2 separate regions of the Homo sapiens genome follow, and region 2 is linked to region 1. Evidence: fine-mapped expression QTL. A gene starts in region 1. The other region holds a variant in brackets. All regions are shown on one strand. Distances are between the middles of the regions. Region 1 holds the start of CCDC9B (coiled-coil domain containing 9B). Region 2 has its middle 11 kb from the start of BAHD1.

Evidence for each region. PIP is the estimated chance that this variant, and not a neighbour inherited with it, causes the effect.
Region 2: its variant is the best candidate, but not a certain one, in a credible set for the expression of CCDC9B in whole blood (TOPMed, PIP 0.67).

Annotation. Positions count from the first base shown.
Region 1 is chr15:40,337,590-40,342,846 of GRCh38, reverse strand. CCDC9B (coiled-coil domain containing 9B) reads left to right here and starts at 1,908. Exons shown (of 11, transcript NM_207380.3): 1 at 1,908-2,039; 2 at 2,832-2,942; 3 at 3,228-3,335; 4 at 3,944-4,099; 5 at 4,187-4,312; 6 at 4,954-5,123. The coding sequence starts at 2,028. RefSeq lists an enhancer at 2,012-2,815.
Region 2 is chr15:40,427,060-40,432,542 of GRCh38, reverse strand. It overlaps a transcript of IVD not described here. Among named protein-coding and RNA genes, the nearest start is that of BAHD1, 11 kb to the left of the region's middle. The variant T/C (reference allele first, on the strand shown) is at 2,803.

The DNA.
Region 1 (5,257 bases):
CTACTACACACCCAGGCTATATGGTATAGCTATTGCTCCTAGGCTACAAACCTGTACAGCAGGTTACTGTACTGCATACTGTAGGCAGCTGTAACACAGTGCTAAGTGTTTACATATCTAAACTTAGAAAAGATATAGTAAAAATATGGTGTACAAGATTTAAAATGGCACACCTGTATAGGGCACTTACCATGAATGAAGCCTGCAGGACTGGAGGTTGCTCTGGTGAGTCACTGAGTGAGTGATGAGTGAATCTGAAGGCCTAGGACATTACCGTCTGCTACTATAGATTTTATAAACACTGTACACTTACGTTAGACTAAATTTATACGAATGATTTTTTGGTCAGGCATGGTGGCTCATGCCTGTCATCCTAGTACTTTGGGAGGCCAAGGCAGGAGGATCACTTGAGCCTAGGTGTTCAAGACCAGCCTGTGCAACATAGCAAGACGTTCTCTCTACAAAAAATTTTAAAACTACCTGGACATGGTGGCATGCGCCTGTTGTCCAAGCTACTCAGGAGGCTGAGGCAGGGGGATCCCTTGAGCCCAGGAGGTTGAGGCTGCAGTGAGCCATGATCATGTCACTGACCTCTGGCTTGGGTGACAGAGTGAGACTGTCTCAAAAAATGAAAAATTAAAAAATATATATTTTTGTTTCTTCAGTAATAAATTAACCTTAGCTTACTGTAACCTTTTTACTTTATAAACTTTTTAATTTAAAAAAACTTTTTGACTCTCTTGGTAATAACCCTTAGCTTAAAACACAAACAAAACACATTGTACAGCTGTACAAAAATATTTTCTCTTTATATCCTTATTCTATAAGTTTTTTTGCTATTTTGAAACTTTTTCTTTTTTTTAACTTTTTAAACTTTTTTCTCAAAATCTAACACACACACATTAGCCTAGGCCTACACAGAGTCAGAATCATCAACATCACTGTCTTCCATTCCACATATTGACCCACTGGAAGGTCTTCAGGGGCATTAACAGGCCTGCAGCTGTCATCTCCTATGCTAACAATGCCTTCTGGATTTCCTCCTGAAGGACCTGCCCGAGGCTGTTTTACAGTTCACTTTTTTTTGTTGTTGTTGTAAGTAGAAGAAATACACTCTAAAATAATGATAAAAAGTATAGTATAGTAAATACATAAGCCAGTAACATAATTGTTAATTATCATTATCAGGTATTCTGTACTGTGCACACTTGTATGTGCCATACTTTTGTGCGGCTGTCATGCCGTAGGTCTGTTTACACAAGCGTCACCATAAGCACATAAGTAGTGCCCTGTGCTACCATGTTATAATGGCTACAATGTCACTAAGCCATAGGAATTTGTAGCTCCATTATAATCTTATGGGACCACCATCATATATGTGGTCCATTGTTGAGTGAAACGTCATTATATGGTGCATGACTGCACAGAGAAGACAATGTCCAACCTAAAAGAATGAATGACTATTGTTGTCATTTTAGGGATGTGGTAGTACTTGGTAGTCTAGGGGAGGTGAGCTTCTTGATCCCTTTGAATTACTTAAACCAAGGCTGATGAGGAGAAGGAGCAGGAGAGGGCAGGCGCATCTGTGTGCTGTAGGCCTTTTTCTACTCATGGGAGGCACAGAGGCCTACGCTGGCTGCCCATCTTGTCTGCAGGCAGGCCCAGGCTGGGGTCCTGCTGGGGCCTAGGCAGCCAGGCCTCCTGTGTAGGCTTGACCCACCAGGGAGAAGTCCCTACCAGTCTGTCTGGGGACGCTGGGGTGGGGCAGGGAGAGGTGCTAGGCAGGACCAGCCAGCTGCCAGTGCCCTGGTCCTCGCCCTCTGAGAGTGGAAGGGTGGGGGTGGCGGCCCGACGTTCCTGGCTGGGAGCCCAGAGGAGTCTTTTGTAATCACAACATGATCTCGTGTGCTGAGCAGCGAAGCCGGCAGGGAGAGGCCGGCAGAGGCCCGGCTCCGGTGGCTCCAGCTTTCCTCCCACTCTGGCTCCCCAGGGGCTGCTCTGGAATTCTCTCGGTGCCCGCCGTTGCCATGCACTCGGCTGTGAGTGGCAGTCTGCCTTTGGCAGGGGGCTTCTTGGGACTGGGAGGGGGCTGGGATACCAGGCAGCCACCCTCTGGGGGCAGCTGGGGACAGCTGGGGCTGGGAGGAAGAAGGCTGTGACTAGGGTCACAACAGAGAACCTGCATCCAGACAGAGAGGAACCTGGAATCTTGATGCAGAGACATGGCTTGCCCAGGGTGACTCCTGGGCTGGGGCCGCCAGGGGAGCTGGCTCTCTCCGCCCCGACTACCAGCAGCTTTCGGCCTGGAGAGGCTGGGCCCCTGGGAGCGGCTCTTTCCTCCAGGCTGGGCACAGGCCTAGGTGCGGGGTCCAGGGCCTGAGAGCCCAGGACGGAGCCAGGGCCTCTCCTTTTTCTCTGGTTGTGGATCTGGGAGCCAAACAGCTCCCCCCTCGACCTCCCGAATCCCCTGGCAGCTTCCCAGTCACGGCAGGTTCCGCTGCCAGAGCCATTTATAACTCCCATTCCAGGCTCTGCTCGGCAGTGAAGCTCCCTGGAGAGCTGGGGGAGGGGCACCCCACTGCTGGGAGCTGTGGCTTGGGGTATGAGGCCCTGACCTGAGCCCCCTGAGGAGGCAGGGACAGGCAGACGGGCCTAGCTGGAATGGGGGCTTGGGGCCTTATTTGGGCCATCTCCCTAAGCAATCCCCTTCCTTCCTGGGTGACCTTAGCTGTGGGTCTGGGATCTCTTCCTTGGGTGGTGAAAATGTGAAAGCTGGGGACTGGTGAGAGGGGGACCCGGAAGTCAGGAGCTTGGGTTCCCTGCCTCTGCAGGGAACTCCCAGAGCCGAGTCCCCCATGAGCAGGCAGGAGAAGGACGCAGAGCTGGATCGGAGGATAGTTGCCCTGCGCAAGAAGAACCAGGCCTTGCTCCGCAGGTACCAGGTGAGTGGGCTGCCACAGGGCCAGGAGAAACCACTTGGCTGCCGCTCCCTGTGCCCCACACGTGGTGGTCTCCCTGCAGGCTCAGCAATGCGCCTCTGGGGCTGGGGCCAGGGGTAGGGTGGGCATGGTCCCTCTTAGAGGCTTGGTGAGGGTCCTGGGGATGTGTGATGTGGCGCCTCTGCCCCCTGGTGTCCCACTGGTGTCTCTCTGTGTAGGCCTATCAGCATCTATGTCTCTGTGCACCTGGGGGGCCATGGCGTGTGCTGACCCCCAGCCCTCCCACAGGAGATCCAGGAGGACCGTCGGCAGGCAGAGCAGGGGGGGATGGCTGTGACCACACCAGCACTCCTCCAGCCTGATGGCCTCACCGTTACCATCAGCCAGGTTCCCGGTGTAAGCCTCACCCTGGGAGACAGGGCTCGTAGCAAGGAGGTGGAGGCCCAGACCATGTCGGGGAAAGACAGCTGCCTCTGTTCCCCTCTCCTACTAACTATTCTGGGGTGCACCTGCCAGCTCCCAACCTCCTGCAGTCGGACCACTGCTGTCCCCACCAAAGAGCCACAGCTGAAAGCCCCCCTACCCCCAGTAGATGCATCTTCATACCCTTTTCCAGTCCACAGCCCTGCGCCTATGCCACAAAGCACAGGCCACTCCTAAACCTCAAGCCCCAGGGGCTAAAACCCTGCAGGAAGTGGGGGACAGAGAAGTTGGGGCTGAATGCCAGGAGCAGTGTCTGAGGGACAGAGACCCATTGTTTGAGTGCTCTGGGTTTCCCAGCTCAGAGATGACGGGCCACTGTGGCATCTTGGGCCGCTGGGTGGCCCTGGGCCCTGGATAACCTCATGCCATTGGCATGTGAACACCCTGTGGGAGTCAGCTCTTCTGTGGGGAATGCAGGGAGGGCTGGGGTTGGAACCCAGGCCTGGGGAACCACCGAGAGGACCCAGCACCCAGGTCCTGCCCAGCACTGCCCATGTGGCCTGAGGGTCTTTGTTCTGCAGGAAAAGCGGGTGGTTAGCAGGAACTGGGCAAGGGGTACCTGTGGACCCAGAGTGACCAACGAGATGCTTGAGGATGAGGATGCTGAGGACCACGGGGGTACTTTCTGCTTAGGGGAGCTGGTGGAGCTGGCTGTGACCATGGAGAACAAAGCAGAGGTGAGCAGGGTGGTGGGGAGTGCAGGCATCGGCAGGCAGCCTCTTCCTCCCTGGCTCTGCTGCACTGCCCATCTTCATCCTCCCCAGGGCAAACGGATTGTAAGTGAAAAGCCTACCAGAGCAAGGAACCAAGGCATAGAGGGGTCACCTGGAGGGCGTGTGACCCGAAGCCCCCCCACGCAGGTGGCCATCAGCTCAGATTCTGCACGGAAGGTGTGTCTTCAAGAGGGGATGGGGACATGGATCTGAAGGTCCTCACTTGGGGGAGGCAGAGAAGCTGAGTCAGATATGTCCCTCATTTGCGGGGACGTGGCCAAGGGAGCACATGCAGGAGTTCCTGCTCCTCCTCCCTTTCTCTGGCCAGTCTCTACTTTGGGTGGGCCTTGAAGTGGGAGACAGTTTAAGCCAAAGATGTGATCCAGCCCCCTCCCCTATTTAGCCCTGCTGATGGTGGCATGGGAGTTGGGGAGGGGGCAGGAGGGTGGAGTTGACTGGCCAAGTGCCAGGTGTGACCTCTAGGTGGCAGCAGCCCCTAGTCCTTGCCCTTGCTCACAGCTTCCAGGGCCCCTCCCACTCCGGCCCGTCTGCATACCCCTGCAACACCCCTGTGGGTTGGTGCTACGGAGATCCTCCCCATTTTACACGAGGAAATGAGACACAGAGAGGTTAAATTACTTATGTAAAACACACAGCTAACAAGTGGATGGAAACCATTTCCACGGGAGAGCTGGAACAGGCCTAATTTTTAGCTGGAGATGTGGAAACCTTGAGAGAGGAAGCGCCTGGAGTCTCCAAACCCCACCCCAAGCCTCTTCCTGCTTCTCCCCCTCACTCTGAGTGTCTTCTCCCTACAGGGTTCTTGGGAGCCCTGGAGCCGGCCGGTGGGGGAGCCCCCGGAGGCGGGCTGGGACTATGCCCAGTGGAAGCAGGAGCGGGAGCAGATCGACCTAGCCCGCCTCGCCCGGCACAGAGACGCACAGGGTGACTGGCGCCGCCCGTGGGACCTGGACAAGGCCAAGTCCACGTGGGTGGCTGGGTTGGGCAGGTTGCCTGTGGTGCGGGATGGAGCTGGCTTCGGGCACTGCTGGGAGGGCTGCAGGGACCCTCCTCGGGGTTGAGAGGACCTTGCTGGGCATTCTGGTCGAGCCCAGGGTTCAA
Region 2 (5,483 bases), 90 kb before region 1:
ACCCACAGCAAGAGCCAGGACCAGCCCTTTCCAGCAGACACCCTCTGGGGGGACTACAGTCTGGGCCACAAGTATGGTGTTAACCAACCATGGTGCCACCTGTGCTCTGCACTGTGCAGGCACCAAGAAGACTTGGGAGGCCATGCAGACAGCATTGCTTCTGACCTAGGAAAGCTACTCCACCCAGCAGAGGCGTGATCCTCAGAAACTGAAGAGCACATCAAAGAGTGTATGACCTAAGCAAGACTGGGCCAGATGATTAGTAACTGGAAAAGTGACATCAAGACTTAGATATGATAGGCCAGGCGCAGTGGCTCACACCTGTAATTCCAGCACTTTGGGGGGCCGAGGTGGGCGGATCACTTGAGGCCAGGAGTTCAAGACCAGTCTGGCCAATGTGGCAAAACCCTGTCTCTACAGGTGTGGTGACACGCATCTGTAGTTCCAGCTACTCAGGAGGCTGAGGCATAAGAATCGCTTGAACCTGGGGGGTGGAGATTGCAGTGAGCCAAGATGGAACTATTGCACTCCAACCTGGGTGATGGAGTGAGAATCTATCTCAAAAAAAAAAAAAAAAGACTTAGATATGAGAGGCCTGACAATTTTTCCCCTTGATTTGTGAATATTATACTATATTTAAAAATCTAATAAGGGCATTTATAAAAATTACACTTAGTTATATAGACAACAACTCTTCTTTGTTGAAAGGGATTATGGGAAATCAGCAATTGCCTTTTTCATTGCTTCCCTCTGTCAGGGTGTATTCTGTGATAGGTAATGTTCCTGGAGAGATTCCATGAGTTAGGCACTGTGTTAAGCTCTTTACACATAATCTTTTTTTTTTTTTTGAGATGGAGTCTTGCTCTGTAGCCCAGGCTGGAGTGCAGTGGCGTGATCTCAGCTCACTGCAAGCTCTGCCTTCCAAGTTCACACCATTCTCCTGCCTCAGCCTCCCGAGTAGCTGGGACTACAGGCGCCCGCCACTGTGCCCAGCTAATTTTTTGTATTTTTAGTAGAGACGGGGTTTCACCATGTTAGCCAGGCTGGTCTCGGTCTCCTGACCTCGTGATCTGCCTGCCTCGGCCTCCCAAAGTGCTGGGATTACAGGCGTGAGCCACTGCGCCCGGCCTACACATACTCTTAATCCCCAGCCAGTCTTATGAAATAGATAGTGTTATTATTCTCATTTTACTAATGAGAAAACTGAGGCATAGAGAGGTTCGGTAACTTCCCAGGGTCACATTAATAATAGTGGAGCCGGCTGGGCACGGTGGCTCACACCTGTAATCCCAGGTCTCAGGGAGGCAGAGGTGGGAGGATAGCTTGAGCCCAGGAGTTCGAGACCTGTCTGGGCAATAAAGCGAGACCCCGTTCTCCACAAAAAGGAAGAAAAAAAAAGACAAAAAAAAAAAAAGCGTAATAATAGTGGAGCCAGGGTTTACATCCCAGCCTTGTCACTTTTAATGATTTCTCCATCACTTCTTCCTAAATAAGCTTCCCCAAACAATTCTCTACTCTTATGTTTTCCAAATGTCTGTTAGCAACTCATTCAAATTTTACACATGAAGTTGCTGTGAGCAACATTCATCTCACTGTTAGATTGGGGGCAAAATGTTGCAAGTCGATTGTCATATTTCTTTATAAAAAGATATTCCTTTGGCAAAGCCGTTATCAAAAGTACCCTTTCCCTGCCTTCTGCACTCTCTTTGACACTGAAACATCAATATGGTCTTTCAAGAACATCAGATACACTTCAGCCAACTTCCAACTACAAGCAAACTCAGTGTTCTCCCAATGTTTCCACTGTGGGGTGCACTGGCAGTTTTAAGAGTCAAGAACCTTGGACTCATCCTTGGCACCTCCCTCTCCCTCCCAAGCCGCCACCCATAGCTAATCCATCACCACAGCCTGTCATTTACTGGAGTCTCCAGCCTCGAATCTCCTCCCACCTCTGTGATCAACCACAGCCCAGCCTCCCGCATCCACTCTGCCCCAGTCAGAGGGATCTTTCCAAAATAGACTGCCTCATAGCACTCTCCTGCTTAAACCCTTCCGTGACTCCTGCTTACACTCAGCATAAAGATCCAAATCTGGAACTGACTATTGTTGCCGCCCCAGCCAGGAGGCTCCTCTGATCTCATCTCTCGGGCTCAGTCACACTCCGCAACCTGCAATGCTCTCCTCCTAGCAAGCCTGGCAAGCCGGTGATTCCTGGCTAAGATCTGCCTCCCCGGCTAGGCTAGGGTGAAAACCACATCTGCGTCTCCCTGGGTCCTCCTGTTTCTCCATGGCCCACAGGGTACCTGCACATGATAGGTTCTCAGTAACAGCTACTCAGTGATGAATGAATGGCAGAGAAATCAAGCCTTTGCCTGTGCCGCAGCGGCTCTGCACCCTGACTGCTCTGCCAGGTGGCCACAGTGCTAGACTTCCATATTAGCTTAGAAAACTACCTCTTGCAGCCACACTGCGTGCCAGGCTCTGCCTCCCTACCTTTAAACACACCCATCCTGACCCAGTTTGCCTGTTTTCAGGAGTGATCACCAACATTTGTACTTTTTGTGACTTGTACATATTTTTACTATAAAATGTCCTGACCTGATTCATTCAACAACTGGATAACAATTGGTTATGGGTTTGACAAGGAAGACTCATTGAAATCTGGAGGCATAAAAGTTACAGTTCTGGCTTCGGCAGTCCAGATGGCTTCCCTGAGAAGCTAGAGGCTGCGGCCCCAGAACTCTGTTCTTTTAGCTGCCACTAAAAAGATGGAAGAATTTAGTTCAAGGCGAAGCCTTGAGA[T/C]TCCCCCCTGCCCACTCCTGCCCTCCCAGCTCCAAGGCCGCCCTTGATGTTTTATTTAAATCTGATTTCATCTAGATAAGGTTGGTGGAGGGCGAAGAAGTTATCCTCCCTGCAGCCTGCCCCCGCCCCCTGCTTTGCATTCATTATGCAAGTATTTATTTGGAGGGAGAGGGCCTCCACTGAGCCAAGTGCAAAGTGCTGGGGATACGGCAGCAAACCAGAGACAGGTGGGCGTGTAGATGGGTTAGTGCTCATGCTGGGTCTTAAAGAATGGGTAACATTAAAATTGGAGTAATTGAGATGTCTCATAGTTTTTATGTCTATCTCCCCAACTAACTCGTAAACTTTTTTGGCCCCGTACTGTTACTAGTCTTTGAATCCCTGGCACCCTGGGACATAACAGTCCCTCAGCAAATGCCAGTTCTTAACTGAGCAGGGGATTGGTGGATGTGGGGGCAGGTCACTCGTGTGGGCTGATCCTGGGGTGTGCCAGCTGGGGGACAGGTGCCTAAGTGAGGACGCTGGCCATGCCAGAGCATCCACTGGCAGGGGATGGAGTGGTGGGCCACAGGGGCTTGGCAGACCCTCTGAGGCACAGAGAGATGAAGTTTCCATGGGGCAGCAGGGAAATGAGTTGTATGGCTGTTCCTGGTGAGTGGGCAGGCTGGGCGGAGGGATGGGACTTATCAGAGGAGCTTGTAGTGTAAGATGGCTGAGCCCACAGGAGTGGCCATAGGGAGTTTCCAGCCTTGGGGATGAGGGGAATGCAGAATTGGGACCGGGCTGGGTCCTCATTACTGAGGGAAATGCTGTTGGGATCCACACAATGTGAGCTCTGAGGCAGCTGCAGATGTCCCAGGCAGGGCTGAGGACCCTGCATTTCTCTGCCCGATCCTTCTTTGGGGAGGCCTCACAGTCAGTCCTACAGAGAGATTGTCTTGTTGCCCCTATTGGCAACAGGCTCCACATTCTGGGGCACTTCCAGGGCTCTTGCCCCACCCCCCACAGCCTCTCTCCAGGCTCAGGAGTCCCGAACAGGAGGTTGCAGCCCCCTTGGAGGTGTGGGTGATCAGGTGGGAGGGCAGAAAAACTGCAATACAAAGGTCTCTGACAGCCTGGAGGGCCAGTGAATGGGGCACCTGGATGTGTGTGGCCAGGTTCCAAGCACCTGGGCGGCTTGGCCATGGAAGGAGAAGACTATGGAGGGCCCCCACTTGCTCCTTCACTCTGGAGCCAAGCAGCCTCCTAGGGAGGGAGGGTACCAGGGGAGAGGGAGGTCCCAAAGGCCAGCCTATTTCACAACCACCTGCTTCTCCAGCCTCAAAGGACCGTAGAGTATACTTTGCCCGGGGTACCTGGGAGAGAGGGGCTGGGAAGAGGTACAAGAGGACCTGGAACTGGCTGGATCTCAATATCTAGGTGGTGATTCTGAACTGCTGCCAGCTCCGGGCCTTGGAAGCAGTCTTAGGAAGGGAGAGCAGATCTCAGCTCTCTCAAGCAGTCTCAAGCAGCAGTCATATAAAACCCACAAACAGTCCAGTCTTTTTTTTTTTTTTTTTGACACGGAGTCTCACTCTGTCACCCAGGCTGGAGTGCAGTGGCCAAATCTCGGCTCACTGCAACCTCCGTCTCCCAGGTTCAAGCAATTCTCCTGCCTCAGCCTCCTGAGTAGCTGGCATTACAGGTGCGTGCCACCACACCCAGCCAATTTTTTTATTTTTAGTAAAGACGGGGTTTCACCATGTTGGCCAGGCTGGTCTCAAACTTCTGACCTCAGGTGATCTGCCCGCCTCAGCCTCCCAAAGTGCTGGGATTACAGGCATGAGCCACCGTGCCTGGCAGTCCAGTCTTAATTAGCAACCTTGGACTGGTCTGACTCCCACCCTTCCACTCTGGGCCACTGGTGGGCTTCTGGAAAGAAAGGAGGGGCTGGGCAGGATGCAGGCCAGTTATGAAGGACATCAAGTCTTCCTTCACTACCCTTTTCTCATTTCAGGTTCCTCTTTCCCCCTATTTTAAATCTTAATATATCTTATAGTAAAGTTATCTTAATTTATCTTATAGTAAATTTCATTTAACTATTCTACTTCAACAAGTAAAGAGACCCACTGTATGCCCAGCCCTGGCCAGCCTGCAGCATCAGACAAGACTCAAGTATGAACTAAGGGATTTTGCTACTCTATTCCTGTAAATAGAAAGACTTTGCGGGAGGGGGCAGGTTGTCCTGAAAACACATGTCTTTGTAGAGGTTGCCTCTTGGGAACCCAGGCAGATGTGCAAGGGGACTCTCAAGGCAGGCCAGGCAGGCAGCCCCCAGCGCTGGGCTTATCTCCCACAAGCAGCTGCGTGTTCACGCTCCTTGCCTCTGCTCCTGCAGCGTGTCTGACAGCCTCTCTGAAAGTGTGTGCAGACGTATGCATGTCCATGTGCATGCTCACCCATGTTTGCTCCTGGACGGGCACAAGGCACAAGCTGTGTCTGAATGGATCTGGATCTGGAGCTGTGTCTCTCTCTGCCAGTGCGAGCGTAGCCCTAGTCTTCTTGCTTCCTTCCTTCCTTCTTCTGCCAGCAAGGGCAGCCCTCTGTACTTCCGCCACTGATCCACTGGCCACCTTTGAGGAGCGGAGGTACTGCCTGTGCTGAGATATTCCTGGGCCTGGAATACCTTTTTTTCTTCAAGA